2 separate regions of the Homo sapiens genome follow, and region 1 is linked to region 2. A link means that fine-mapping ties the variant in region 2 to the expression of a gene that starts in the linked region. Tissue or cell type: nucleus accumbens. Region 2 holds a variant in brackets; the other region holds the start of a gene. All regions are shown on one strand. Distances are between the middles of the regions. Region 1 holds the start of GPC5-IT1 (GPC5 intronic transcript 1). Region 2 overlaps GPC5 (glypican 5).

Evidence for each region.
Region 1: GPC5-IT1 starts here. The variant in region 2 is fine-mapped to the expression of GPC5-IT1 in nucleus accumbens (GTEx, PIP 0.98).

Annotation. Positions count from the first base shown.
Region 1 is chr13:92,481,198-92,489,546 of GRCh38, forward strand. GPC5-IT1 (GPC5 intronic transcript 1) reads left to right here and starts at 3,406. Exons shown (of 2, transcript NR_046779.1): 1 at 3,406-3,484. The region is part of intron 7 of GPC5 (glypican 5); the gene reads left to right.
Region 2 is chr13:92,505,176-92,513,524 of GRCh38, forward strand. The region is part of intron 7 of GPC5 (glypican 5); the gene reads left to right. GPC5-IT1 (GPC5 intronic transcript 1) reads left to right here. Exons shown (of 2, transcript NR_046779.1): 2 at 4,338-5,145. Among named protein-coding and RNA genes, the nearest start is that of MIR548AS, 19 kb to the left of the region's middle. The variant T/G (reference allele first, on the strand shown) is at 4,307.

The DNA of each region.
Region 1 (8,349 bases), 24 kb before region 2:
TCACGCCATTCTCCTGCCTCAGCCTCCCGAGTAGCTGGGACTACAGGTGCCCACCACCATGCCCAGCTAATGTTTTGTATTTTTAGTAGGAACAGGGGTTTCACCTTGTTAGCCAAGATGGTCTCGATCTCCTGATCTCGTGATCCGCCCACCTTGGCCTCCCAAAGTGCTGGGATTGCAGGCATGACCCACCGCGCCTGGCCAATTTTTGTATTTTAAGACACCAGGCTTGTAGTAATTTGTTATAGCAGCAATGGGAAACTAACAAACATGTATGCGCAAAAAGGGGAAAAGAGTTGGGCCAGTTGAGTTTGTCACTTTGTATCCGGAAAGCAAAACCCTTCACAGAAACCTTACTGAACTTTCATTTGCTTACATCTCCCGTTCCAGAATTAGGCTGCATGACCACTGTGGATCAACCACAAACCAAAAGAATTCAATTATCATGGCACTGTTCAATTAGACAATCACAGTTCATCTCTTGGAGCTGAGATGGGGGATCATTTCCTTTCTTTTCTAAGATCTACTGAACTCTCATTAGCTGGAAAAAAAAATCAAATTCTATTGGGAGAGAAGAAGGGGGTTGAAGACAAGTGGATTTTTAATACCTAGCTGATGTTGGGAGGCTAAGTATAAAAAGACATTCTGTGGCTGGGCGCAGTGGCTGACACCTGTAAACCCAGCACTTTGGGACGCAGAGGTGGGCGGATCACCTGAGGTCAGGAGTTTGAGATCAGCCTGGCCAATATGGGGAAACCGCATCTCTACTAAAAATACAAAAAAATTAGCCGGGTGTCGGGGTGGGCACCTGTAATCCCAGGTACTTGGGAGGCTTAGGCAGGAGAATTGCTTGAACCCTGGAGGCAGAGGTTGCAGTGAGCCGAGATCGCACCATTGCACTCCAGCCTGGGCAACAAGGGCAAAACTCTGCCTAAAAAAAAAAAATTCCTGATGTTGGGTGCGTAGCAGCTTGTGCCTGACACACTGCCCCATATCCTTTCCACCAACAAGTCTCATTGTTTTCTTTCAAAAATACATTTCAAACGTGTCTTATGTCCACATGTCCACAACCACCATTCTGTTTTAATCTAACAACATCTCTCTTTTGAATTGCTTAAATGACCAGTTAATTCTCCTCCTAAAAGCTGTTTAGCTTCCCACTCGCCCCTATCTTATTTTTTTCCATTAGGTAGCCTGAAGAATCTCCTAAAAAATTAACTTGTCCATTCTCTGCTTTTTATACTACCTAACCACTTCTTGTTGAAGTTAGGATTAAGCTCAAAATCCTTAAGTGACTTACCTCTTTTGCAGCATTGCTTGTAGAGTAAAAGATTCTTTAACACCATTCTTCTTTCCAGCTTTGGCCAGGGTTTTTTTCCCCCCTTAAATACTACTAGTTATATAATTAAATTTTAGTTTATGCACCAATTTGAATGAATACTTGATAAATGTCTCTACTTGTAATTTATAACTTCCATTAGAGTGGAAGTCAGGTACACTTTTACCCACGATTGTATTGCACTTAAACTGGAACTGTTGAGTGGGTGAATAATCAATAAAATGAGCAAATAGTTCTCATCCTTAAGAACATTCTAAATCAGTAGGAAGAAAGAATGAGTAACTATAGTTATGCCATGCTTAATGATGGGGATACTGTATTAGTCTGTTCTCACCCTGCTAATAAAGACATACCTGAGACTAGTTAATTTATAAAGGAAAGAGGTTTAATGGACTCCCAGTTCCACATGGCTGGGGAGACCTCACAATCATGGCAGAAGGCAAAGGAGAAGCAAAGGCACGTCTTACATGGCAGCAGGCAGGAGAAGCTTGTGCAGGGGAACTCCCATCTATAAAACCATCAGATTGAGACTTATTCACTATCACGAGAACAGTATGGAGGAAACCGTCCCCATGATTCCATTATCTCCACTTGGCCTTGCCTTGACATGTGGGGATTATTACAATTCAAGGTGAAATTTGGGTGAGGACACAGCCAAACCATATCAGATACATTCTGAGAAATGCATGTTTCTGTGATTTCATAATTGTGTGAACATCATGAGCATACTTACACCAACCTAGATGATACAGCCCACTCCCCACCTAAGGCTACATGGTGGAGCCTTTTGCTCCCAGGCTACAAACCTGTATGACATGTTACTGTACTGAATAGTGTAGGCAATTGTAACACAATGGTAAGTATTTGTGTCTCTAAACATAGAGAAGATACTGTAAAACTACAGTGTAAAAGATAAAAAATAGTACACCTTATAGGGAAATTACTATGAATGGAGCTTTCAGGCCACAAAGTTACTGTGGGTGAGTCAGTGAGTGGTGAGTGAATGTGAAGGCCGAGAAAATTACTGTAAACTAGTGTAGAGTTTATAAATACTATACACTTAGAATACCCAACAATTATTAAAAATATTTCTTTTTCTTCAATAATAAATTTACCTTAACACTGTAATTTTTTACTTTATAATTTTGTTTTTTAACATTTTGACTTTTCTATAATAAATGTAGCTTAAAACATACTGTACAGTTATACCTGATTTTTTTGTTATATTATTCTAAAGCTTTTATCTAGTTTCTTTTTTTTTTTCCTTTTTTATTAAAAGCGAAGACACAAACACACATTAACCTAGTCTTGCCAGGCACTGTGGTTCATATCTGTAATCCCAGCACTCTGGGAGGTCAAGGTGGGAAAAGGCCTCCTCCTCTTGAGGCCAGGAATTTGAGACATACCAGGACAACATAGCAAAACCTTGTCTCTACAAAACATTTAAAATAACTGGCCAGGTATAATGGCATGCACAGGTGGTCATAACTACTCAGGAGGCTGAGGTGGGAGGACCGCTTGAGCCCAAGAGTTTACGGCTACAGTGAGCCATGATCACTCCACTGCCCTTCAGCCTGGGCAACACAGTGATACCCTGTTTCAGAAAACAAAAATCAAAACATCTGGGCCTGCACAAGGTCAAGATCATCAGTATCACTGTCTTCCACCTCCACATCTTGTACTACTGGAGGGACTTCAAGGTCAGTAACACTCATGGAGCTGTCATCATGTATGATAACAACGACTCTTGGAATAACTTCTGAAGGATCTGTCTGAAGCTGTTTTACAGTTAATTTTTGTTTTTTAATATGCAGAAGGAGTATACTCTAAAATAACTATAAAAAGTAGAGTAAATACCTAAACCAGTAGCTTAGTCATGTATTATCATTACCAAGTATTATGTACTATACATAATCATGTAGGCTATATTTGGTTATGCATACTATATGACTGGCAGCTCAGTAGGTTTGTCTACATCAGCATCACCGTAAACATGTGAGTAATGCATTGTGCTCTGACATCACAATGGCTATATCACCAGGCAATAGGAATCTTTCACCTCCCTTGTTGACTGAAATGTGCTTATGCAGCACATATATAATAAAAATGATAAAAGGCTACTCTCTTTAGAAGGACAGACAACATGTGAGTTTGGACCATTATAGGTCAGATGTGCCTTGAATAGAATTTTTATTTTATTTTTTTATTTTTTTTTTGAGACAGAGTCTCCTTCTGTCACTAAGGCTGGAGTGCAGTGGCACGATCTCGGCTCACTGCAACCTCTGCCTCCCAGGTTCAAACAATTCTCCTGCCTCAGCCTCCCGAGTAGCTGGGACTATAGGTGCGTGCCACCATGCCCGGCTAATTTTTTTTGTATTTTTAGTAGAGATGGATTTCACCGGTTGACCAAGTTGGTCTCGAACTCCTGACCTCAAGTGATCCACCTGCCTCGGCCTCCCAAAGTGCCAGGATTACAGGTTTGAGCCACTGCCCCTGGCCTTGAATAGAGATTTGAAGGAAAGATGCAGCCAAGGGGATGTTGGCAAGTGAAACAATCCATATTTAAAGGTTAGAGGGATGAAATGGAAGTGAGTTCTGGAAGTTTGATGGAGGCAAGTCTGTGGAAAGTTTCAAACACTAAACCTGTGCAAATGAATTATCTTCAATTTTTGTAATTTGTTTTTATGCAATATATTTTCTGAATATATGAGTGATGTAACCTTGATGGTATTATAGGAAGTTGACATTTCAGGCAGTCTTACTAATTAAATGTTATTAATTCAACATCTGTTAAACAAATATTTTTGGGTGCTAGTTGCCAGACTCCAAAATAATAGCCAGAGAAAATAAGGTGAGTGCAAACTAAAGGCATAGCCTTTACTCTCATAGAAAAGTCTTTTTCTCTAATTTTTAAATGTATTTTGTCTTTAAGATAACATCACAAGTTCATCAAGAGTAGAAAAAAAAATCACTTTCTTATATTTCTTCTGTTTCAATCACAGTCCATATGGCAAAATTAGGCAAATAGTAATTGAGCAATAAACCCCAAGTTGATTGTTTAATGGAATAATCAAGAAATTTCTAGATGGTCATTCCACTTTGGATCATTACAGCCCTACCTTACAGCAGGTGGGTAAGATTTGAGAAAAGATATTTAGGCCAGGCACGTTGGCACATGCCTGTAATCCCAGCACTTTGGGAGGCCAAGGTGGGTGGATCACCTGAGGTCAGGAGCTTGAGACCAGCCTGGCTAACATGGTGAAACCCTGTATATACTAAATTAGCCAGACTTGGTGGTGGACACCTGTAATGCCAGCTACTCTGGAGGCTGAGGCAGGACAATCACTTGAATCTGGGAGGCAGAGGTTGCAGTGAGCTGAGATGGTGCCATTGCACTCCAGCCTGGGCGACAAGAGCAAAACTCTGTCTCAAAGAAAAGAAAAGAGATATTTAAAAATTATGTAGTTAGATTGACTAATGCCAGCAGCTATGGATCGTTCAGGCTGAAAACTTCCCTTGGAGGTCTTAATGATCCAGATTTCCTTATTAATACATGCAACTGTCACATGCTCCATCACATTCTGTATTGTCTCCCTAAAGCTTCAATGTCTTTTTTACACTGGAATTTATCAGTGTCATCAAAACATTTAATGCTGGTTAAAATGATAGCCCCTGACTTAATTATATGGGCTGTCAGGCAAAATTGACGGATGTCAGTGACAACAAAGCTTATTCTAGCCTGACCTTCACCGAAAAATACACTGAGAAATGGTATTTCTATCCTCCTATCCTCAGATCAAGCTTTTATCTGTTGGCATCATTGTCATTATAATTATATGTGGTATAATAATAGTGATTCTGATTTAAATTTTGTAAAATAGAAACCACATCGAACTTGCTTCCTAAAGTGTGATGTAATTTTTTAAATAAAGAGGAAAAAATTCTAGACATTTCCAACTCCTTAAAAAATACTGTGTTTGATTTGTTGACATAGGGAACTGGAAAGTGGGGTAAATTGAAAAATAGTAGAGTTTTAGTTTCTAACACTCATATCAACTTTAAATTTGTCTTTTTGACAATTTGGAGGTACTTGATTGTATTTCTATGAAAGGAAATCATAAGAATGAGAATATAAAGATCACTGTTTAATTCCTAATATGAATCGTGCTCTACTGTCCAAAAAAATAGACACGTGGCTTTTTAGATTTAAAGTTAATTAAAATTAAAATGTAAAATTCATTTCATCAGTCACATCAGCCACATTTCATGTGATTCGTGGTCATGTGGCTAGTGGCTACTGGATTAGATAACACAGGGGACAGGGATTTTTTTTTTTTCAGATGGAGTCTCGCTCTATGGCCTAGGCTGGAGTGCAGAGGCGTTATCTCGGCTCACTGTAAATTCTGCCTTCTGGATTCAAGAGATTCTCCTGTCTCAGCCTCTCAAGTAGCTGGGATTATAGCCGCCCACCATCATGCCTGGCTAATTTTTGTATTTTTAGTAGAGATGGGGTTTCACCATGCTGGCCAGGCTGGTCTCGAACTCCTGACCTCAGGTGATCTGCCTGCCTCAGCCTCCCAAAGTGCTGGGATTACAGGGGCCGTGCCCAGCCAGGGAATTTTTGTTGTCTTAGAAAGTCCTATGGAGAGTGCTGCTTTGCTGTATTTGCATGTAGTTTTATCATCTCCATGCAGTTAACAGAATGTTTTCAGGAGGAGAATTCCCTAAGGTGAGAAACTGGTTTTCTCAGGAGACTATTTGGACAAATGACAACCATGTTATTTAGTGAGAGTGACCACCAATGGAGCCCTATACAACTGTCACTGGCACTGCCTGAAGGGAATTTATAACCAGGAGACTATTGCTGTTCTTAGTTGTGTCTAAAATTGCATTGTCATGATTCACCAAAGGCATGTCATGATGTACCATGTGCCTTTTGAGATGGGATAATACTTATCTATAAGATGGTATGATTATCAGATTGACTCCTTCTCCTACAAAGAAGCCTCAATATATTTCAAAGAGTAGAAAACTTTCTGCATCCCAGAGAGCAATGATTTTTATCATTGAACAGTGGAAGTGTTTATTTCCAAACTATTTAAGTGCTGCACGTGACCCCAAAGTTTATCTTGAAATTAGTTACTACACTGAGACACAATTCTGTGAGAAATGGAAGTAAATTTTAAGTGATCCCATCTCAGGCTAAGTAGCTTGCTGAGAGTTGTGAGACAAACATCTCTATACTTTGATGCTTTTCTGTGAAGAAAATCATGATTATAAATATGGACTATATATAAATATAGTAAAAAAAAAAAAAAAAAAAAGAAAGTAAAACCTATGCTATTACAGGCCAGGAGAGCAGATCCCTTTGATGAGAAGAGGTAAGGATTAGTGATTGGAAGGAAATATGAAGGGAATTGTGAGGATGGATGAATTTCTGTTTCTTGATTAGGGTGTTTATGTGCAATTTTTGAAGTCATCAAACTGTATACTTATAATATTTGCTCTTTTCTTCATATTCTACCTCAATAAAAATGTGAACATATGCATGAACATACATACCCAGATACGTATGTGCCTGAGTGTGTGTGTGCGCGTGTGTGTGTGTACAGGCATATAAGTTTGTAAATTTAATCCAGTATCAAAACTCAATGAAAACCCATTTTTTTCTAACGTGGCTGTGACTAATTATTTAAGGATTGCAAACTTACTAAACAGTCCAAAATCTTTCAAACCAATTTAAATCAAAGCATAATATTATCGAAAGATTTAAATTTATGCATCACTTTTCCGTGATGGAATGCTAAGTAGATCCTATCCAATGCTTACTTCAGATCCACTTCATTTCCAAAATGCCACTGAAGCATAAGTTAATTAAATTACATAGATTCTAGGCAGTGATGGGAAAAGTAATATTTGATTAAGTGCATATGCCTGCAAAAATCCCTCCGTTGCCATACGTGCTGATACATCAGCTGCTTAACTGCTGGCATTTTTAATCTATCCAAAAGGAAGACATATTTAAGTAGGTTAGTTATTCCTTGGCTTGTGAAGTGCTATCATTTTTGTTGTTTGCTAATAGTCCTGTAAGGCAGAATTCATTCAAAGCCAGACAGGAAATGCAATGACATAAAACCTGGTATTTAGAGTGCATATGCTCAGAATTCACAGCGATACTGTGTCGTAGGTGGTGGTTTCTTGCAGGCATTGCATTTCTCTTGATTCATGATAATGTTTGAAGCTTTGAAAGTGAAATTGACTAAAATTAATTCTACTTGTGAAACTGCCCTCCGGAAAACTGTTCATGTCTATGTGTATCAATGTGCTAACATAGCAATAGCATTTAAAGGCTTGACAATAAAGGCAGTTACTAACAAATAAAACATTAGAAAGGGCTTTTTTAACAAGTAAATTTCAGGGGAATGGTTTCAAGTTTAGACAGAATTATATACAAGTTCCCAGATGTTCATATAAATATTAATATATCAGTTATTTTCTATTTGACTCAATTATGCACAAATCAGCACATAATAATTTAATCAAGCTCTTCATCTCTCTTTGACAATACATTGCATCATGGAGTAGAGAAAGAATGTGAAATTCAAGGTGGCTAGTCTACTGCTAAACTCTGATGAAATGACACAGAATAATGATTTAACCACCAAACTAAGAAAAATCCTTCATTTTCATGTACATTTTACCTATGTCCATTCACTTATCTAATGATCCTATACATATTTATCAAGTATTAGTATGTGCAGGGCTATGTCTTCGTTGCTAGAGATACATCTTGTGACTCACCAATTCTCTGTCCTCATGGAGTTTCTATTCTAACGGGGAAACAGAATACTGGCAGAAAACAAACCAGTAAATACATCATGTGTCAGATATTGATGAGACACGTGGAGAAGAATTAGGCAAGGTAATTTGCATAAAAATTGTGAGATGAGATGGAGTGCTGATGTTGTTATTTTAGTTGAGGGATATGGACAGGGTTACTCGAAAGGTGG
Region 2 (8,349 bases):
GTAATTTTAAAGAGCATAGAAAGAGCAAAAATATGTTCAAGCCACATATCTGAAAAGGGAGCTGTATTCAGAATATATAAAGAAATCTCAAAATGTAGCAGTAAGAATCAAATTTAAAAAGGGCAAAAGACTTGAACAGATGTTTCACGAAAGAAGACATGGAAGTCCAGTAAACATGTGAAAAGATGTTTAAAATCAAAATCACTAGGAAAAAGTCAATGAAAATCATGAGATATCGCTACAACCCATTAGAATAACTCCCACTAAAAAAAAGTATTAACAATTCCTGGTGCTGGTGAGGTCAAAGAGCAACTGGGATTCTCATACATTGCATTGGGAAATGAAAATGATATAGTCACTCTTTAAGGTGGTTGGTAGTTTCATGTTAAATTTAACATTCACTTACCATATGGCCCAGCAATCCCACTGCTTGGTGTTTACCCCAGAAAAATAACTTAGATTTATACAAAACCTACATATGAATGTTTATAGCAGTTCTCTTCATAATTGCCAAAAACTTGAAATAACCCAAATATCTTTCAATGGTTGAATGGATAAGCAAATTATGATACATCCCGACTATAGAATACTACTAAACAATTAAAATGTGTGCATTATTTTGGTACTCACAACATCTTACATCAAACTCGAAGGCTTTAATCTGAGTGAAAGAAGCCAGTATCAAAAAGTTACAGCCTCCATGTTTCCATGTGTGTGTTAATCTCTAAAAAGATAAAACTTCAGTGATGGAAAACAGATCAGTGGTTGACAGGATGTAGGAGTGAGAAGTAGTGGGACTGTAAAGAGATGGAAGGAGAGAATGGGGGAATGGAATATAACTGTTCGGCCTTCTTTTCGGAGTTGGTGGCTACATCAGCATGGGCACAGGAGAGAATTCATAGAACTGTATGCCACATTAAAGGTCAATTTTATTGAGTATTAACTTAAATATGACCTTAAAAATAATTATCCACTACATACCAAACTTTGTATTTAATAGTAGTAAAAAGCTTGGAAGATGAGCTGCATGAAAATGCAAAATAAAGGCTGTCTCTGAGGACTTTAAGAGAAGTAGAATCATTATAGGAACACACACTTTTTCAAAAACTTCATATGAATGAAAGAGTTCTAAGGAACAATATTACACTGTTTATATTTCAGAAATTAAAATTTCAAAATAAAAGTTTGATTAGAAATAAGAAAAACTAAGGCCAGTTTAAAAATTAAAGCCAGTCAAAAAATAGATTACAGAAAATATTTTTTAAATAATAATTGATTATAAAATTATAGCTAAGAAAACTCTAGGCCTCTTTCAAGCAAAGTAAATTCCAAATAAAGCATGTTCCTCATATAACTTCTTGACAGTGACCAGAATATGATTTAGACACAACAGTTAACCAAACTTATAAAATGCACCTCTTACTTCGTGATTCTGAGGAAATTTCAGAGAGTGAAATTCCAGCCTCTGTTTCTTTTGTTTTGTGGTCTTTCAAATATATAACATCCCTGAGGAGAACGTAGGAAGCTCTTCTACTTTGTGTCAAGGCTCCGGGTGATTCATTTGGAATCTTCTACCTTTGATTCACACATATACTTTTAGGTTCAAGAGTATGCCTTACTTTATTACCATAGCCTGTCGCAGGCTCGATTAAAATTTCTGGAAACAAATGAAAAATTGTGTTATGAAAAGAATATGATTCTAAGAATCAGGAGGCTCTTATTGGAATATTAGAATTATATACATACAGATCATTGCACTTAAGATATTTCCACTTAGTCTGTGCCTCTGTCTACACCTTGATTTCTGCTACTTCCTTGGCCCCCAAGTATGTGATTCCCTAAATCTATGCATTTCCATGTCTTCATGCTTTGCACATGCAGCTTCCTCTGCCTAGAATATTCTTGCCTCATTACTCACCATAATCATTTCTACCCTTTCTTCTAGAGGCTATTCAGGAATTACTTCCATTGGTAAATCTGTCCTAATCATTCTCTACTCCCCAGATGAAAGATCAACTACTTACTCAACCATCCCATCCACCGTTTGTCTTCACAGTACATTGAGTTTGCCTCTAATCTTACCCACTTACAGCATCACAAGGAATTTTTTCTCATCTATTTACATTTTTACTTTTTTCTCTTGCCAGCAATAGCTATAGAAATTCAACAAACGCTTGATGAGTAAATGTATAAATGAAACAATGAATGAATGAATTTAGCTTTCTTTGGCTTCAGTCCTTTCATTATAAAACATCTATAAAATATTCTCTACAAATATTTTTTTCATTCTGCAGTAGGTGTAGTATTTGAAAATGTGTTATTTACAAAAACTGGCAGAATAGATGAAATCCCTTCTCACATAAGAGTGTGCAATTGTTTTCATAACCAGTTTAGACAACACTGAATAAACTCACACCCACTCTACCTATAACATCTCTGCTCTGATGTTAGCAGAATTTCTAAAAGCAAAGTAAAGTTATTTACAAGTTATACCACTGAGAATTGAAAATGTTATAACTGGTACATTATTTTGAAAGAAAAAAATGTCAAGGTGCCTTTATTTAGAATTAAGTGGAAATAGCTTTGCTGATTCATAGGAATAAAATATATCCTGCACAAGTGAAAAATTTCAACAATCCTCATACATTTAATGGTTTACCTTATTTTTTTTTGCTTGAATTTGTGGTGAATTTGAAAAATTATGAAACCATTTTATGTATATTGAATGGATCTATTGCTGAAAAGAAAGTCCTGCTTACAAATTTTTATTTAATTAATTTAATTAATTAATTTAGTTTTTTGTTGTTGAGCTGGAGTCTCACTCTGTTGCCAGGCTGGAGTGCAGTGGCACAATCTCAGCTCATTGCAATCTCCGCCTCCCAGGTTCAAGCAATTCCCCTGCCTCAGCCTCCCCAGTAGCTGGGACTACAGGTGCACACCACCATGCTGGGCTAATTTTTTGTATCTTAGTAGAGACAGTGTTTCACCATGTTGGCCAGGATGGTCTTGATCCCATGACTTCGTGATCTTCCCGCCTCGGCCTCCCAAAGTCCTGGGATACCAGGCGTGAGCCACTGTGCATGGCCTACTTATAAGAGTTAACTCAATAAATTAGCATTCATTTGTAAATCACCCAAATATATATAGAACATCATATTAGACAAGTAGATAGGAAAATTTTAAAGTCCTAATCTGTGTCCTCAGCTTGGGTACAATAATAATGATTATGGACAGGCATATACAGAACTTTTAATACAAGAAAAAAATGTATTATGAATTGTGTATTGTTTTAAGAGTTTCACAGATTTTGTACAATCTGATATTCTCAGTAATGGTGAAGTGGGTAACATTCTTTCACATTTGAGGAAACACGAGTATGGAGACATTAAGTAACTTGCCCAAGGACACACTGTAAATAGAGAAGCTGCTATTGGCTATATGAATCTAGAGTTCAAGTTCTTAAAAACTATGCTTTATAGATGATTAATTCTGTCTTGAAGTTTTATAACTGCAGATAATCAGCATGTTAGCTGGAGGCCCACTCAAAAGACATTCTCTTTACAGGCAATAAATTAGTCAAGTCATAGAGGTAAAACAATTTAATAAAAATATTGATGTGATTGGAAATCATGAAGAATTTGACTGTATTTTAGGTTGTGCTAAAACAGGAAAAGTAATTGAAATCAGAAGACGGTTTTGAAAGATAAGATTTTAAGCACTCAATTTATTCATTCATTTCTGCATTTCTCTATGAAGGACTGGGCGCCTACTCTGTGCAAATCTCTGTTGCAAGTACTGAGGGTGGAGTAGTGAACAAGATAGAGAAAAACCTGTGCTTGTGAAGATAACATCCTAAAAAGAATGACAGACCATACATAAATATGTAATATATGCCAGATAGTAACAAGCACTCGAAGGAAAAAGAAAGTGGCTAAGTAATAGAATAGTTTGATGTGAAGAATTCCATGGTATAGGCTCTATCATGATTTACCCCTGCCTCAAACATTACATCCCAGCAACATCAATCCGCTAATCATTTCCTTGTATACTTCCTGATAGTTTTAACCCTCCTCTCCCTATCTTTTCTGTCTGCTCTAAGGGGAATTCCTTTCTTCCCATTGCTTTTAATTATCTCTGACCCTTTAAGCATCACATAAATCTTTCCTTAGGTAAAATATTATATTCCCCCAAAAGGTTCTCTCTGCTTAATTCTCTCTGCTATTGTCTCATTATCTTAGGCTTAGCATCACCTCTTGACACACCTCTCGCCTTGATAGCACATCTCCTCTTATATTTTCTTATCTTT[T/G]TCTTATTTTTTCATTACTTTCTTCCTTCAGTGACCACGATAGTGCCTCATGCAAAGGAGACATTCTACAAATGTGTTGGGAATGGAAAGCAGATAAAGATGTGATCGAGATGAAAGAGAAAAATGGCATTTGGAATTCTCCCTTCAGAGATCAAAGTTAACAGTATGGTGATACGGCATCCAAGGAAGACAGAAATAACTGATTTCAAGACAGCGAAATTTCTACAATTTACCAGTTATTTAAAAGCTAGCAAACAAACAACGGCATACTCACCTTCATCTGTTGGGGGAAAATTATTTTTTGTCATTGCTCACTTCAACATGGGCGCAATGAGAGATAAGAGACACTAAGAAATGAGTGTAGAAATGAATATTTTTGCTCATTCTGCTAGAAAATATAATACTTAGTAGAAACAGATTCCTGAATTGCTACACTTTAAACATGCAATCACATTTTACTATTATATGCTATACACATACTCTAAATGTTGTAAGCTTAATATTTCAGATTGTATAAGAGATTTTGAGGCATGTTATTGTACATACAAATAACATAAATAGGGTTACCATCCTAATCCAAGGGTTACTTAGAAAAGAAACCAATACTATTTTTGATATATTATTAATGACATTGTCTTCTGACAACATAATTTCTTATACACACTGCTTTTACTTTAAAAATTGTTTCTAGATAAACATAATGTTTTTTCCTCTTTTGCTGTTTTTTTATTTTTGGAAAAATTAAAGGCATCTTTATGTTTATTCTTAGAGATAACTCAGCTTCATCTTGGCCCACTTTCAAGTAAAATTCAAATAAATTAATTTGAGGGATGTCAAAATGTCTACCAGCCTAATAACTTAACAACCTCTTAAGATGCCAGTGGGTTAGAATAAAAGACCTACATCGAAGGGAATGATGGGGAACATGGCAGGAGGGAATTTTGTCTTAATATCCTTTCTTAGAAGCATGCTTTCTGTGCTCAGCTGCATAGAAACAACTGGCTTCAGGGAGCTACCTTTTACTCAATCTTTAGAACAGTATTATTCATTCAATTGCAATGTTGACTATTGTATATACAATTGACATAAGGCCTCAGGACATTCAGTCTTCTGTTACGGAATTTATGGAATCTGAGCTCTCCTGCTGGGATCAAGACACCATCTGTAGGAACTGGTATTATGAACCCACCTCTGGGTTACTTTAGATGGAGCCACGTGGCTCTGGCTCCTAGATCTCAGCTGTATCCATGGCTTATGCTGATTTTCCACCTATAGGGGACTATGAAAATTCACTTGTCTTAATTTCAGAGTGAGACATAAGTAAGGGTGATTAGATTGATAGCATCTCCATTACCAAATCAATCAGTCCATGGCTTGTCAGCATTCTTTCTAGGGTTTGCAACTTGTCTGAGGCTCAGTTCACTCCTCTAGGAAATGGAATGAAGTGAGGGAGGATAAGATCAGGCTATGATGTGTGGGCCTTTCTCAACATTAAAGTAGATCATTCCCATCATTTGAATTCACTATTATGATTTTAATTAAAACCTTTGTTAATATCTAGATTGGTATCTTATAAAGACATAGAGAAAAGGATGGGTTCATTTCATCTGAAAGGTTAGGGTTTTCTTTGGTTTGATATGTTTAGCTTGGCTTTTAAAATTCTTGAACAGACTTTATTTCTGTTCTTAATGTATTTTTTCTATTTTAATTATTCTGGCTTTTTCTCAAGTAAATCTGCTATTTTTAGAATAGATTTCTATCTATCATCTCCCATAGCTGTATTGGCTCTCATTTTATTCTTGGTTCTTCATTTCTGCATTCTGGGAAAGTATCTCAAATTTGTCTTTCACAACATTGACTGGACTTACTGTAGTTTCCACTAGCACAAATGTATATTTTAATTATGCTTTCTTTTTCCATTTTTGTCTCTCTCCAGAAATATTTCCTAACGGTCATACTTGTAATTACTTTATGTTAGTTTTTCATCTGGGGATCTCCTTTGCTAGGATTTTTGCATTTATTTCAGAGAAATCAGCTGTCATTTAGCCTGCAAAAAATGCCAGCTGATTAAATGATACCTCTGTTGTTCAAGGGCATATGATTTCTGTGACCATTTTTGGATGTTGTTTCACTTACTTTGTGCTCTCATATTTTTCCCACAAACCCCATGGTTCTTTGTAGGTTTTTCCCTTTAACCTTAAGAGATGCATATTCTCTTATAAAGTCATTTTGTTGCCAGAGCTATAATTTTCTCCTTCTTCTGATACTTAGCTCTTTGACATTTTCCATTGAGCAAGGGAGAAACTGCAATCATCAATCTGTATGACTCCTAGACCCTTCCTGACTTCATCATCTCATGCAGCACTTTACCTGTGATCATTTTCCATCTCAGTAGGTTATGCTTGTTATATGGTGAAAGAGAGACGTGGAGTGCAGGCTGGAGAAGTGGGAGGCAAATGGTCTCAAAATAGAACATCCCTGTAGTGAAGTTCTGGGTGTCCCGATTTCTAGTTGCTTTGTACCTTGGGTGTCTGGGCTAGAATCAGTCAGTGGGAAAGAAGCAAAATAGCTCCTGACCTTCTCTAAGACCAAGTTTATCCTGTTTTCAATAGCAAAGCATGCATCCATGAGATATTGATGATTTTTGCCAGTCCAACCCATTTATCTTATATTAACTAAATTTTCTCCCCGATTCTGCCCTGGCAACACTTAATGATTGATCCTAGTAATTTTTTTTTATTTTGTAGATTGTATGTGTGTGTGTGTGTGCGCGCGCGCGCGCGTACGCTGTGTGCATGCACGCTCATGGTAACACATATTTTTTACTATTTCCGAGTCACCTTAAGTACTTTAGTGACAAGTGGGGAGAAGCTACAGAAGGAACAATTAATACCACTGCACTTAAAATGGGAATCCCTAAAGCAACAAATAATAAGATTTTAAGGATAGTATGTGTGAACATTTCAATACATAAAATATATCTTACAATTAAGACAATAAAAATATTATATATAAGAAACAGCTTTACTCTAAATGCTTCATCTGTAGGCTTTTTCAGAAAGTTATCAACATAATGATCATCTGAATTGTAGTAACCCAGATGTTGATCTGTTACTTTTTCACCTATTTCTTCATTTTCCCTATGCCAATATCCAGTTAGCTCTTCTGTATTTTCAGTGTTCATTTAGAAGAGAAGGGAAGGGTTCACATTATTCATGCTTTGGAGATTAATGATATAGTCAATCATCTGAAATTCACATGGATCATTACTGCCTTCACATTAATTTATGCTCAATTAACATTCTTAGAATCAGTTTTCTGTGGAGTTTAGCCAATTGGCTTTATAGCTTCTGGCTCTGCAAGGTTCATTTTGCTCTGATCACTAGTAATAGGAGTAGCTACAGTCCTCCTTCCTGTCATTAAAGTCTTCAGGGCTTTGGTTTTGCTCATAAATTGAATGGGGCCAGCACGTGATGCGATGTTGTCACAGAGTTCCTGGATAACAGCCACATTGCTACATCCTGGCAACTGTCCTCCATGCAGATGTGATGCTCAGCCGAGCAGCAGGGTCACAGGTGTACCTTTGTGCTGGTGTATTGGAAAGGTCACCGGCGGAAGGCCATGTTACACTCAGAGGGATGGGAAGACGTATTGTTCGTACTTGAATACTGTTCTTCTAGGAGAAGGGCGGGAATCAGCAGGCCGCCTTTTCCTGTAGTGAAAATCAGCAGGAACATGGCTTTTTCCATATTGGACCTAGAAGTAATGTTTTAGGAATCATTGACAGTGTGCTTAGGGGTCTATTAAACATAGGAGAACATGCAATCCTTTTTTGTCCAATGTTTAGGTGAAAAGTGAATTTATAATAATGAACATTGAAAGTATTATGAATTAATTCACTTGGACTGCTGTCATGGTTGTGGAACTAAATAAACTTCTGTTCCTGTGTATTTTTCCACATCCTAGTTAAAAATCTAAAGCTTTTTTCTGTTTTTTTTTTTTAATTAAGGCATATAAGACATCTTTCTTTCTCTCTCTCATTC